3 linked regions of the Homo sapiens genome follow. The protein of the gene in region 1 interacts with the protein of each later gene in a pairwise test. Each region holds a gene or a part of one and is shown in the gene's direction. Other genes may lie near its edges. The genes, in order: SRGAP1, ARHGEF7 and EXOC1.

Region 1 (3,657 bases):
AATCTAGTAAATTTTGTCTCCATTCCTCTTACTGCTTCAGGGATGATACGTTTTCAGACACTCTGAGCCAAAAAGCCGACAGTGAGGCCAGCAGTGGGCCAGTCACGGAAGACAAGTCCTCATCCAAGGACATGAACTCCCCGACAGACCGTCATCCTGACGGCTATTTAGCCAGGTAAGTAGAGCCTGGGAATCAGGCCCCTAAGCCTCCGCTCCTCCTGGGGCCATGAGGAGCCACTGCACCTCAGCCTTGCAGTACTGCCCGGTGTGATAAGCTCTTCTGTTTTCTCCCTGTTTCTGTGAATGTCTAGGCAACGAAAAAGAGGAGAGCCACCCCCTCCAGTAAGGCGTCCTGGCAGGACCAGTGATGGCCATTGCCCGCTCCACCCTCCACATGCCCTTTCTAACTCCTCAGTTGACCTAGGGTCCCCAAGCCTTGCCAGTCACCCCCGGGGCCTGCTGCAGAACCGTGGCCTCAACAATGACAGTCCTGAGCGGAGGCGCAGGCCTGGCCATGGCAGCCTGACCAACATCAGCCGGCACGACTCCCTCAAGAAGATCGACAGCCCTCCCATTAGAAGGTCCACGTCATCAGGGCAATACACGGGCTTCAATGACCACAAGCCACTGGACCCAGAGACAATTGCTCAGGTACGATGCTTTTAATTACATATTGCATTTTAAGTACCTAAGTGTGATGTAGGAGGTGTGAAAGATTTACTTTATTTACTTTTTACTTTATTTACTTTATATTTCTGTATAGAACCAACTAAAGAAAACAGAAACAAAACCAGCTCATTCTTTAACTTAGGCCCTGAGTCTTTTTTGAACAATTTGTTACTGAAAGGGCCCAAAGGTTCATAGTGATTTAAACAGAAACATGACAAAAACGTAGGACCAGGACACTCAAACCTATCATTGTGAATAGCCAGAAAAACTTTGAAAAAGAAGAATGGGAAAGCAGTGGCCCTGCCAGATCCTAAATGCATTCTAAAGCTAGTAAAACAGACAGATGGATGAAACAGAATGGAGAGCCCAGAAACAGAAAAACCTTAAAACAGTAGTCCCTCCTTATCTGCAGGGCATATGTTTCAAGACCCCCAGTGGATGCCTGAAGCCACAGATAGTGCAAACCCCTACTGTATATGATAAAGATGGCACTTTCAACTTAGAAAAGATGAGACCTAATAAATAATGTGATCAATAATAGATAGATATTTGAAGAACAAGTCTGGATCCTATGTACCTCCTGAACACATTCAGGTCTTTGCTTCCCAACAGTGACTGCAGAGGGGCTGTGTAGTTTTCTTCTAATGACTAAAATTGACCAAGTAAAAGGGAAACAATACTAATAAATTTGCCCATCATTCTACCATTTTTCCCTCTGGTTCTGGCTCTTTTCACAGCACAGGCCATGAGAACATATGTTCGTAGGCCTAGTGGGTGGCTTACACCTGTAATCCCAACACTTTAGGAGGCTGAGGCAAGAAGATAGCTTGAGGTTAGGAGTTTGAGACAAGCCTGGTCAATATAGCAAAATCCCGTGTCTAAAAAAAAAAATTTTTTTTTAATTACCTAGGTATATTAGGATTCTCTAGAGGGACAGAATTAATGGAATATATATACATATAAAGGGGAGTTTATTAAGTATTAACTCACACAATCACAGAGTCCCACAATAGGCCATCTGCAGGCTGAGGAGCAAGGAGAGCCAGTCCAAGTTCCAAAACTGAAGAACTTGGAGTCTGATGTTCAAGGGCAGGAAGCATACAGCACGGGAGGAAGACGTAGGCTGGGAGGCTAGGCCAGTCTAACCTTTTCATGTTTTTCTGCCTGCTTTATGTTCACTGGCAGTTAATTAGATGGTGCCCATCCAGATTAAGGGTGGGTCTGCCTTCCCCAGCCCACTGACTCAAATGTTAATTTCCTCTGGCAACCCCCTCACAGACACACCCAGGAGTAACACTTTGCATCCTTCAATCCAATCAAGTTGACACTCAGTATTAACCATCACAAGTCTACCCCTTGTCAACTTGAACCCATAAACATCTCCTGAGATCGTACATAATCTTCAAATAAAAACAATAATGTCATAATTACGCCTAACATGATACAACTGTCCTTTCCTATAACCGGAAACACACCAATCCCCAACCCAAATGCTATTACATAAAGTTAACAATACTTAAATGCTGATAGGAAGTCAATATAATCTTATGTCACATGCTAAAGGAAAAAGGAAATAAAATGAAGATATTTTCCTAGTACAAGTGTATACATGCACAAACATGTTTTTAACGAAAGAAGGAAATACTCATGACAATTACAGTCCCTGTTTCCACGTGGTCATAGCTGGTATTGATGACTACCTTCTACTACCCATTCCGTATTCCCTTTGCCTTCAGCAAGCACCTCAGCAGGTCGTGGTTGTTGTTGTTGTTGTTGTTGTTGTTGTTGTTTTCCTGGCGGAGTGACCCAAACCTTCATTCCTGAAGGGTCTGGGCCATTTGTAGTCCTGCCTGGATTGGGCTATTGTAGTTTCCCATTGACCTTAATCACAGAGCGTGGTAATACTAAGAAACGCCCTAATGGATCTCCTGTATTCCATGCACACTCTTTTTTACCTGCATCGTGGAGTAGTCGACTGATTTCATCTTGATAGTCTGAGTCAGTCACCTTAGCCAACACTGTAACTCCCTTCTTAGTCTGTTGCCTTAAAGGTAGGAGGAGCCCAAAGTGTCCAGGTGGCAATCTTAACTCAATGGCATTGTTGCTGTGTCTCCTGGTGGCACATTCCTCCCTCTGGAACTGAGACCTCTAGGCCAGCAGAACATAATGTCGCGGGAACAGGAAGTAAAAATGTTGCTAGGGGGTCACTAGGGATAATGATGAATGGTGCCACTTCCACTTCCACCTCTTGATTCCTGGACCCGTGAATCCTGGCTATGGGAGAAACTGCACCATGTATTGGACACAGATTCAGAGCATACACAGCCTTCTGGGGAACTTTGCCCCAGCCCTGCAAAGTATTGTCACCTAGTTGGTGTTGCAATTGTGACATCACAAGACCAATCCACCATTCTGTCAATCCAGCTGCTTCAGGATGATAGGGAGCATGGTAAGACCCATGAATTCCATGAGCATGAGCCCACTGCCACTCTTCTTTAGCCATAAAGTAAGTGCCTTGGTCAGAGGTAATGCTGTGTGGAATACCATCATGGTGGATAAGGCATTCCATGAGTCACAGATGGTAGTCTTGGCAGAAGCATTGTGTGCAGGATAGGCAAACCCATATCCGGAGTAACTGTCTATTCCAGTGAGGACAAACCTCTGCCCTTTTCATGATGGAAGAGGTCCAGTGTAATCAACCTGCCACCAGGTAGCTGGCTGATCACCCTGAGGAATGGTGCCATATCGAGGGCTGTGTTGGCTTCTGCTGCTGGCAAATTGAGCACTAAGCAGTGGCCATAGCCAGGTCAGCCTTGGTGAGTGGAAGTCCATGTTGCTGAGCCCATGAGTAACCTCCATCCCTGCCACTATGGCCACTTTGTTCATGGGCCCATTGAGCAAGAACAGGGGTGGCTGGGGAAAGAGGCTGAATGGTGTCCACAGAATGGCTCATCCTATCCACTTGATTATCAAAATCCTCCTCTGCTG
Region 2 (3,657 bases), on another chromosome or scaffold:
GGGAGCAGAGAGGACGTTCACGGCGTGTCAGATTCTTCTGCTCATTTAAAGGAAACTTTCCACCCAGGTTCCCGCTTTGCTTTTAAGGTGGAAGGTTAGACAGTGAGAAGATGGAATTATAAACTTTACATGAACAGTTCAGAAAAGAGACACTTTTCATTATACTGGACAGATGTTTTCTGCTGTAGGGGAGAGGAAAATGGGATTAAAAAGTTTTCGCCTTCTCTGTATCTGGAGATCCTGCACTTTGGTTTTCTCCAGGAGGGGTCAGGATGTTTGGCTGGGCTGCCCATGTCTTCGGCTTCCCACACTCCTCCCGTGAGCAGAGGTCATGACGTCTAGGGAGCCCTGGAAGCCCTTTTCTCACAAATTCACTTTAAACATCCCTAGGGTATTTAGTCAAAGGAGGTGAAATCAAGATACATGAATTGTAGAGGATGGAAAATTTCTATAAGACTAATACAACACATTAAAATCATGGAAATCATGAAATGCTCTTTTAATTTCACTTGTGAATGCAACAAATGAAGTCTCTTAACTCACTATAAAAAACTCAAGGAACTTGGTTCTTTCTCTGTGTGTCCCAGGAGAACAGAACACAGAGAACCTTCCTGTGTAATCCATGTGATGTGCTCCCGAGAACCCTGGCTAGGTGTTTGTGGAATGTAATTGAAAATCAGACGCTGCCTCGGGTCTTAGTGCTGGATGTGGAGGCATTTGTCTCTCAGCTCTGGAGGCCCAAAGTCTGGGATTAAGGTACCTGCAGGGCCTCGTGCCCTCAGAAGGCTCCAAGGAGGGGTCTGTCCCAGGCCACTCTCAGGCTTCTGGTAGTTCCTGGCTTGTGGCAACACAAGTCCAATCTTCACATGATGTCCGTGCTGTGGTTTCTTCTCTGTGTCCAAATTCCTCCTTTTTAGCAGGACATCAGTGGAATTGCATTAGGGGCACCCTACCCCAGTATGGCCTCATCTTAACCGATTACATCTGCATTAACTTCATTTCTGAATAAGGCCCCATCCTGAGATACTGGGGGTTAGGACTTCAAAATACGAATGCTGGAGGAGCACAGTTCAGCTCATGACAGGTTGTTTCTACATTTGAACCAGATCAGTTTATTAGCTATTGATCTGATTGCACAATGCCAGGTGCTAGGGGAGATTGCAAAACCTAAATAATAGAGTCTTGGGGGTTCCAGTACAGAAAATGTAACTCGAAAGACAAGAACAGCATGAGGCAGAAGGAAGTCAAGAGTCGTAATGTCAGATATGGATGAGAAGGAGCAAAAGAATCAAGGAGCTAAAAAGACCAGCATTTGAGCAGGTCAGACCCAAGACTTTGCTGACGTGTGGGTAAGAATATGGTTTGCATTTCCCAAACTGTAACCTGGCAGCCCTAGGTGATTTTCCACAGGCTTGCAGAAAATCAGCAAATCTGATGTTGCATAGGAAAAAAGGAAATACTTTTTTCTAGGTAAACTGGAGACTCACTTTCTGCTCAGTGTCAGGATTCTGGGGTTGGTTAGGGGCTGGGGTGAGGAGAAGCAGAAGTGCTCACCTGCTAGAAATGTGCCTTTTCTTAGGTCCTTTGGCCCTAAAAAGAACGTGATGAGTGATCACATGTGGTGGTAGGGTAAGGTTCTCACTCAGGCCCGTGACCTGTAGCCGTCATAAAGACTTGTTGATTGGCTAAGTCACTTATAGAGAAGTTATAATATGGTATCTCCAGACTGTGTTTTTAAGGAGACTTCTTTAAACCCTGCAAACTGAATAACTGGTTATATCAAGTTGCTTCTAACTAAACTACCCTGAATATGGTTCCAGAATAGTGAATTTTGCAATAATAAACATTTCCTTTTGAAGCATGTGACTTTATAGTCCTGTCTCAACCCTGAACCAGTGTGATTCTTGTTTGGGTTTCAGGCCTAGGGAAGAAGGTAGCTGGAACTGCATTTGCTGGCTCACTAAAAAGAAAGCAAACAAACTGAAATTCAATTTAAATCAGGAGTGCCTGAAGAGATTTCCTGAGAACCAGACTAGAAACTAGTGTTTATGTTGGCATCACACAGACACAGGAGAGCACACACACAAGCATACACACACGCATACATGCACACTTGCACATGCATGTGCACACACGAACTTATGCACACACGCATGCATGCCTGCACAAACATGCACATACGTAAACACATGCATGTAAATACACACACACACAGACACATGCGTGTACATAGACACGCACACACGCACACACAGACACGTCTGACGGGGGTTGAGGGAGTGGGGGAAGGAGTGCTGGCACATGTGGCATTCCATTTTCTCAGGGGCAGCTGCTCTGTGAACTCTCCAAGCCCAGTCCAAAGGATGCCATCTCAGGACCCGGCCCTCATTCTATTAATAGAAGTCACTCCAGAATCTGCCTGCTCGCCTCCTTTCTTTAGGCACTGCCTGCCTTTCTATACATCTTAAAAGAGAATAAGATGTCTGCCCAGCATGGCAGGCAGCATGCTCCTCTCGTTTGCAGGCGCTGTCCCTCGCAATACCCATACTGCAGATGAGGACCCTGAGGTCTGGCAGTTAGCTTTGCCCCAGGTCATCTGGCTGCACTCGGAGGCGGAAGATTCCAGCTCAAGACTGTGAGCTTTCTCATGGAAAACAAGACTGATTCTGCCACCTATACTGAACTTAGGGGAAGATTCGCAACCACTGCCTTCAGAAATTTACAAACCAGATCAGGAAAGGAGACGGAGGCAGCAGTGTAACTGAGCACCCAGGGGGGACAAAAGTGAGGACTGGAGGGGCTGGCTCAGGTCACCGGCCACAGGGGCAGAGTGGGAGCCCTCAGGAGTGCCTGGAGCCACTGCAGGTGTCTCACTTCTCGGGACATCTGGAAGCAGCTCTGCCCTTCAGTAGACAGACCCCAAAGGCACCCAGGGTAGGGCCCCTTGCCCTGGGGGAACCTGCAGAAGCTCCTGCAGAAGTCTGTGTCTGGGCCTTTCTCCCCGGCCGCAGAACGTGTGTTCCGTGTTCCTGTACCATCCAATAACTCACTGTAGTTTCTGGGCTTCCCTACTCTGTAGGGCTTACCAGATTTCCACTTAGTCCAAGATTTCAAACTGTGTGCATCTACACCACACACACTTTTAAAATTCAAGTACTATGTACACACGAACATCTCTCTCCCTTTAGAGGCCACTGATCACTCTAAAATGTAAAGAGTGGAGGCGATGGGGGCTGTGAGGTGAGTGGGGGCAGAGCCGTTTGTTCTTGTGTAGGGTGGATTTTAGCCGTTTGGATTGGAGTCTTGTGTAGGCTTGACGCCCACGCGTCTCTCACTGCACGAGGGAGGTGGCAGAGGCACATCATCCCTTTGGGCACGCAACTCTACCACGTGCATCGCTGGGAGATGGGAGGACTGGCATCCCCCGAACCCACGGGTCCCTGCCTGGAGACACTGGGAGACCCGGTCCTCTGCGTGCTTCAGAGTCAGGCACACCTGGCTTTGTTCCCGCAGCCATTTGCTCTGTGACTTCCGGCACCTGTCTAACCTCTCGGAGTCCTAGTTTCTTCCTCCTAAAAATGAGATGAATGATATCCACTGGTGGGGGCAGTGAGGTCATTACCAGGGTAAATGAGTAGATGTGCTGGGCACAAAGTC
Region 3 (3,626 bases), on another chromosome or scaffold:
GTACAGAGATAATGTTAAATTTTTATTCTTCCAAACTTTTAAATTCCCTGTCCCTCTCTTCTATATATGGGCATATTGTATGTGTGCTTTCTTTAATATAAAAGTGTTGTCATACCTGACACACTATTTTTGAAGCTGCTGGACTCTATATAATCTTAGTATCTTTCTTAGTTAGTTAATATAGATAAACATAATCATTTTTAATGATTGCATAGTCATCCATATGTCATTATCCATTTACCAAATCTTCTATTAATAAACATTTAGGATTTTTTTAGTTTATCTATCTTTGTATACTTGTCAAATAATTTCTTTAGGGTAAATTACTAGAAATGGAATTACTGGGTCAAAGGATTTATGTATCTCAAGTCTTTTCCCAAATTGTGATACAGAAAGCTTATGTCAGTTTAGTGCTATGAGCAGTTGCATTACAGCTGTACCAATGCTGGGTTTTACTAGGTATTACCAATCTTTTTATTCTTTGTCAACCTGATAGGCTATAAATTATCTCACTATTTTATTTTGCATTTCATTGATTTTGTATATGGTGTCTTTACTTTACATGAATTTTCAAATTTTATCTCCAATTTATTTATCTTTCCCCTTAACAGTCTTCTAAATTTTGGGCCATTCTTAGCAAGGTCACACTATTGCAAAATTATTATTTTTCTATTAGTTATATTTTCTTTAGTACTTATGATTGTATTATTTGTTTGCTTTTTACATTTTAAATAATTTAGCAATTTAGAATTTGACTGCAAGATGTAAAGTAGGAACTTAAATTTCATATATTAAAATGGTCCAGCCGGTTGTCCTAACACATTTTGAATAATTCATCATTTCTCCATTGATCTGAAAAGCTACTTTTATTATATACTGAATTTCCATATACACATGGGACTGTTTTAGGATGACTTTTTATTATGATTAGGTAGATCTGAAGACTCCCATTACAATATATTGTATTAAGTCCAGAAATGTGCTTAATTCTTAAACTTACAAATGAAAAAAAATTAATAGTATAAATGTTTATAGCTAAATATGGTCATACTCAGAGATGTTATTTTATTTTTTCTGTTTTGGTTTTAGTGGAGAAAGTAGCAAATGAAAGCCAGAAGACCCCCAGGGATGTGGTTATGATGGAAAACTTTCACCATATTTTTGCAACTCTTTCTCGATTGAAAATCTCATGTCTAGAAGCAGAAAAAAAAGAAGCCAAACAAAAATACACAGATCACCTTCAGTCTTATGTCATTTACTCTTTAGGACAACCTCTTGAAAAACTAAATGTAAATATATTTTCATTCAGTATTTTTCCTACTTTTGAACCTATACACATAAGTTTGCATATGAATAACCTGCAGACATTTATCTTAAATTTTCTCATGTGTTGGTGCACAGGGGACTCAGTTATTGAAGCTGCCAGTGTGCCAGACACTGCTAGATGCTATATATTTTATTTCTTCTTTCTGTACATTATTTTTATACATTATTTATCTACTATATTTTAATGATAATTGTACTAGTATTCTATTATGCATTATTTCTTTTAATTCTTATAAACAATGATGTGTAAGCTAAGATAATATTATCCCCATTTCACAAATGAAGAAACTGAAAGTAAAAAAACTTGCCCGACATCATAATAGCTTATAAATTACAAAGCTGGGGGATGAACCTAGATTAGGCTTTGCCGTTACTCTTTCCCATTTCTTACTTTATAAATGACCAAGTTTACAATGTCTAGGTGGAAATTTCAAAAATATTATTAAGATAAAAGAAAAACCAAAAATTGCTTTCTACATTGCCTTTTACTTTTCTTTCCCTTCTTTTTTTTTCCTTACTTGAGTCATTTCCCAGAGTAAGTCTGTTAATTAAAGTTAAGAAATGATGATTTTAGGGAACTTTACAAGATAGTGAAAGCTTAAATGAACCTTTTAAACTAACTTTGTCTGCAATATAGTTATCTTTTATAAGCTCTTAACTTGAAGTTAGAGTAAAATAGCGCGGTGACTCACACCTGTAATCCCAGCACTTTGGGAGGCCAAGGCAGGCGGATCACGAGGTCAGAAGATCGAGACCATCCTAGCTAACAAGGTGAAACCCCGTCTTTACTAAAAATGTAAAAAAAAATTAACTGGGCGTGGTGGCACGCTCCTGTAGTCCTAGCTACTTGGGAGGCTGAGGCAGGAGAATCACTTGATCCTAGGAGGTGGTGGTTGCAATGAGTGGAGATCACACCACTGCGCTCCAGCCTGGGCGACAGAGCAAGACTCAGTCTCAAAACAAAACAAAAAAAAAGAATATGTATCTGCTGTCAACAATTCAAAGAAATACTTGAAAGACATTTAATCAAATGCAGAACTAATTCCTTATAAAACTTAAGAACAGACAAATATTCCTTTAACTGGATAAAAGATCTATCTCAGGCCTAAAGCTTACATGATACTTAACTGCAACGTTAGAGACATTCCCTCTGAAATCAATTTAAAGCAGAAATATTGTTAGATCCTTTATTATTTAGCATTGTTGTTGAAGCACTAGCCAGTTCAACAAGACCTGAAACATAAATAAGAGATATGGAAAACAGAGACGAGATTATCACCACCTGTATATGATATGTTGAAATTACTGGTGTTGGTCAAGTGACAAAATTTAAAGCAAATATACTGAAAAACAATGTATTTCCTGTCTACCAATTAAGAGCTTATGTAAAAACAAAATTTTTAAAGCACTAAGAATAACTTCTCAAAGAATGATAATTTAATGAATAATCACTAAGAAAATTTTAGAAAAAAGTAATGAGAGGGAATGGGGTTTGTCAGCATTAATTCTTTGTATCGTGCTCAAATACAGTTATGCCAGTCAATAAAAGTATATATATAAAAGAAGACCTGGGAATAATAGTTACAATAATATAACAGAGTCAGTATATTTAATATAAAAAATCTTACTAAAATCAATAAGAAAAGCACTAAGACCCCAATTTATAAATGGGGCAAGGGGCTGAATCACTACTAAACATATAAAAGCAGGTTAACCTTATTTATAGCCAAAGAATTATAAAATAAAATGACAAACTTTTTTTACTCTGGCAACTATTGTTATAAATTGTCATAATGCTTATGATGGTATAGTGAAGTAGCAACCTCATACACTGTTGACAGAAATATAAATTGGTTGAGCTTTCCTAGGAAGCAGTTTGTATATATACTGAAGAATCTTTCAAATACTTAAAGTTATGCTCTTCAACAGAGTAATTATAGTCCTGGAAATTTAATCAGTAAGATGGGTAAATACTTATATACAAAAAAAATTTATGACAAATATATTTATAGTAGATTTTCTAAAGTCTCACTAGATTTGCCAAGTCCAAAAAAAGAAGGGGGAGTGGGATGTTAAATATCTAGTACTAGAGGAATGAATAATAATTGTGGTTCAGTCATTGTGTGAAATATTATGCAGCCATTAAAATTTATATTTAGGAAAAAACAATATTAAATGTAAAGTGGGACATGAAATTTTAATCTCCTGTATGTATTCACACATCAAAAGATTACAAGGAACTCTACAATATTAACAATGTTCATCTCAGAAGTATGTTAATAAGTGATTGTTATTTTATT

The links.
Region 2: the proteins of SRGAP1 (region 1) and ARHGEF7 interact in binary tests that used the Homo sapiens proteins (3 or more experiments, as listed by UniProt).
Region 3: the proteins of SRGAP1 (region 1) and EXOC1 interact in a two-hybrid assay, tested with the Homo sapiens proteins (one large-scale study listed by IntAct).

The regions. Positions count from the first base shown.
Region 1 is NC_000012.12:64,127,550-64,131,206, forward strand, and holds part of SRGAP1 (SLIT-ROBO Rho GTPase-activating protein 1), read left to right. Parts: intron 1-40; coding exon 41-175; intron 176-311; coding exon 312-651; intron 652-2,624; exon of another isoform or gene 2,625-3,183; intron 3,184-3,657. UniProt on the Homo sapiens protein: GTPase-activating protein for RhoA and Cdc42 small GTPases. Together with CDC42 seems to be involved in the pathway mediating the repulsive signaling of Robo and Slit proteins in neuronal migration.
Region 2 is NC_000013.11:111,118,272-111,121,928, forward strand, and holds part of ARHGEF7 (rho guanine nucleotide exchange factor 7), read left to right. Parts: intron 1-3,657. UniProt on the Homo sapiens protein: Acts as a RAC1 guanine nucleotide exchange factor (GEF) and can induce membrane ruffling. Functions in cell migration, attachment and cell spreading. Promotes targeting of RAC1 to focal adhesions. May function as a positive regulator of apoptosis.
Region 3 is NC_000004.12:55,898,596-55,902,221, forward strand, and holds part of EXOC1 (exocyst complex component 1), read left to right. Parts: intron 1-1,089; coding exon 1,090-1,289; intron 1,290-2,239; exon of another isoform or gene 2,240-2,559; intron 2,560-3,626.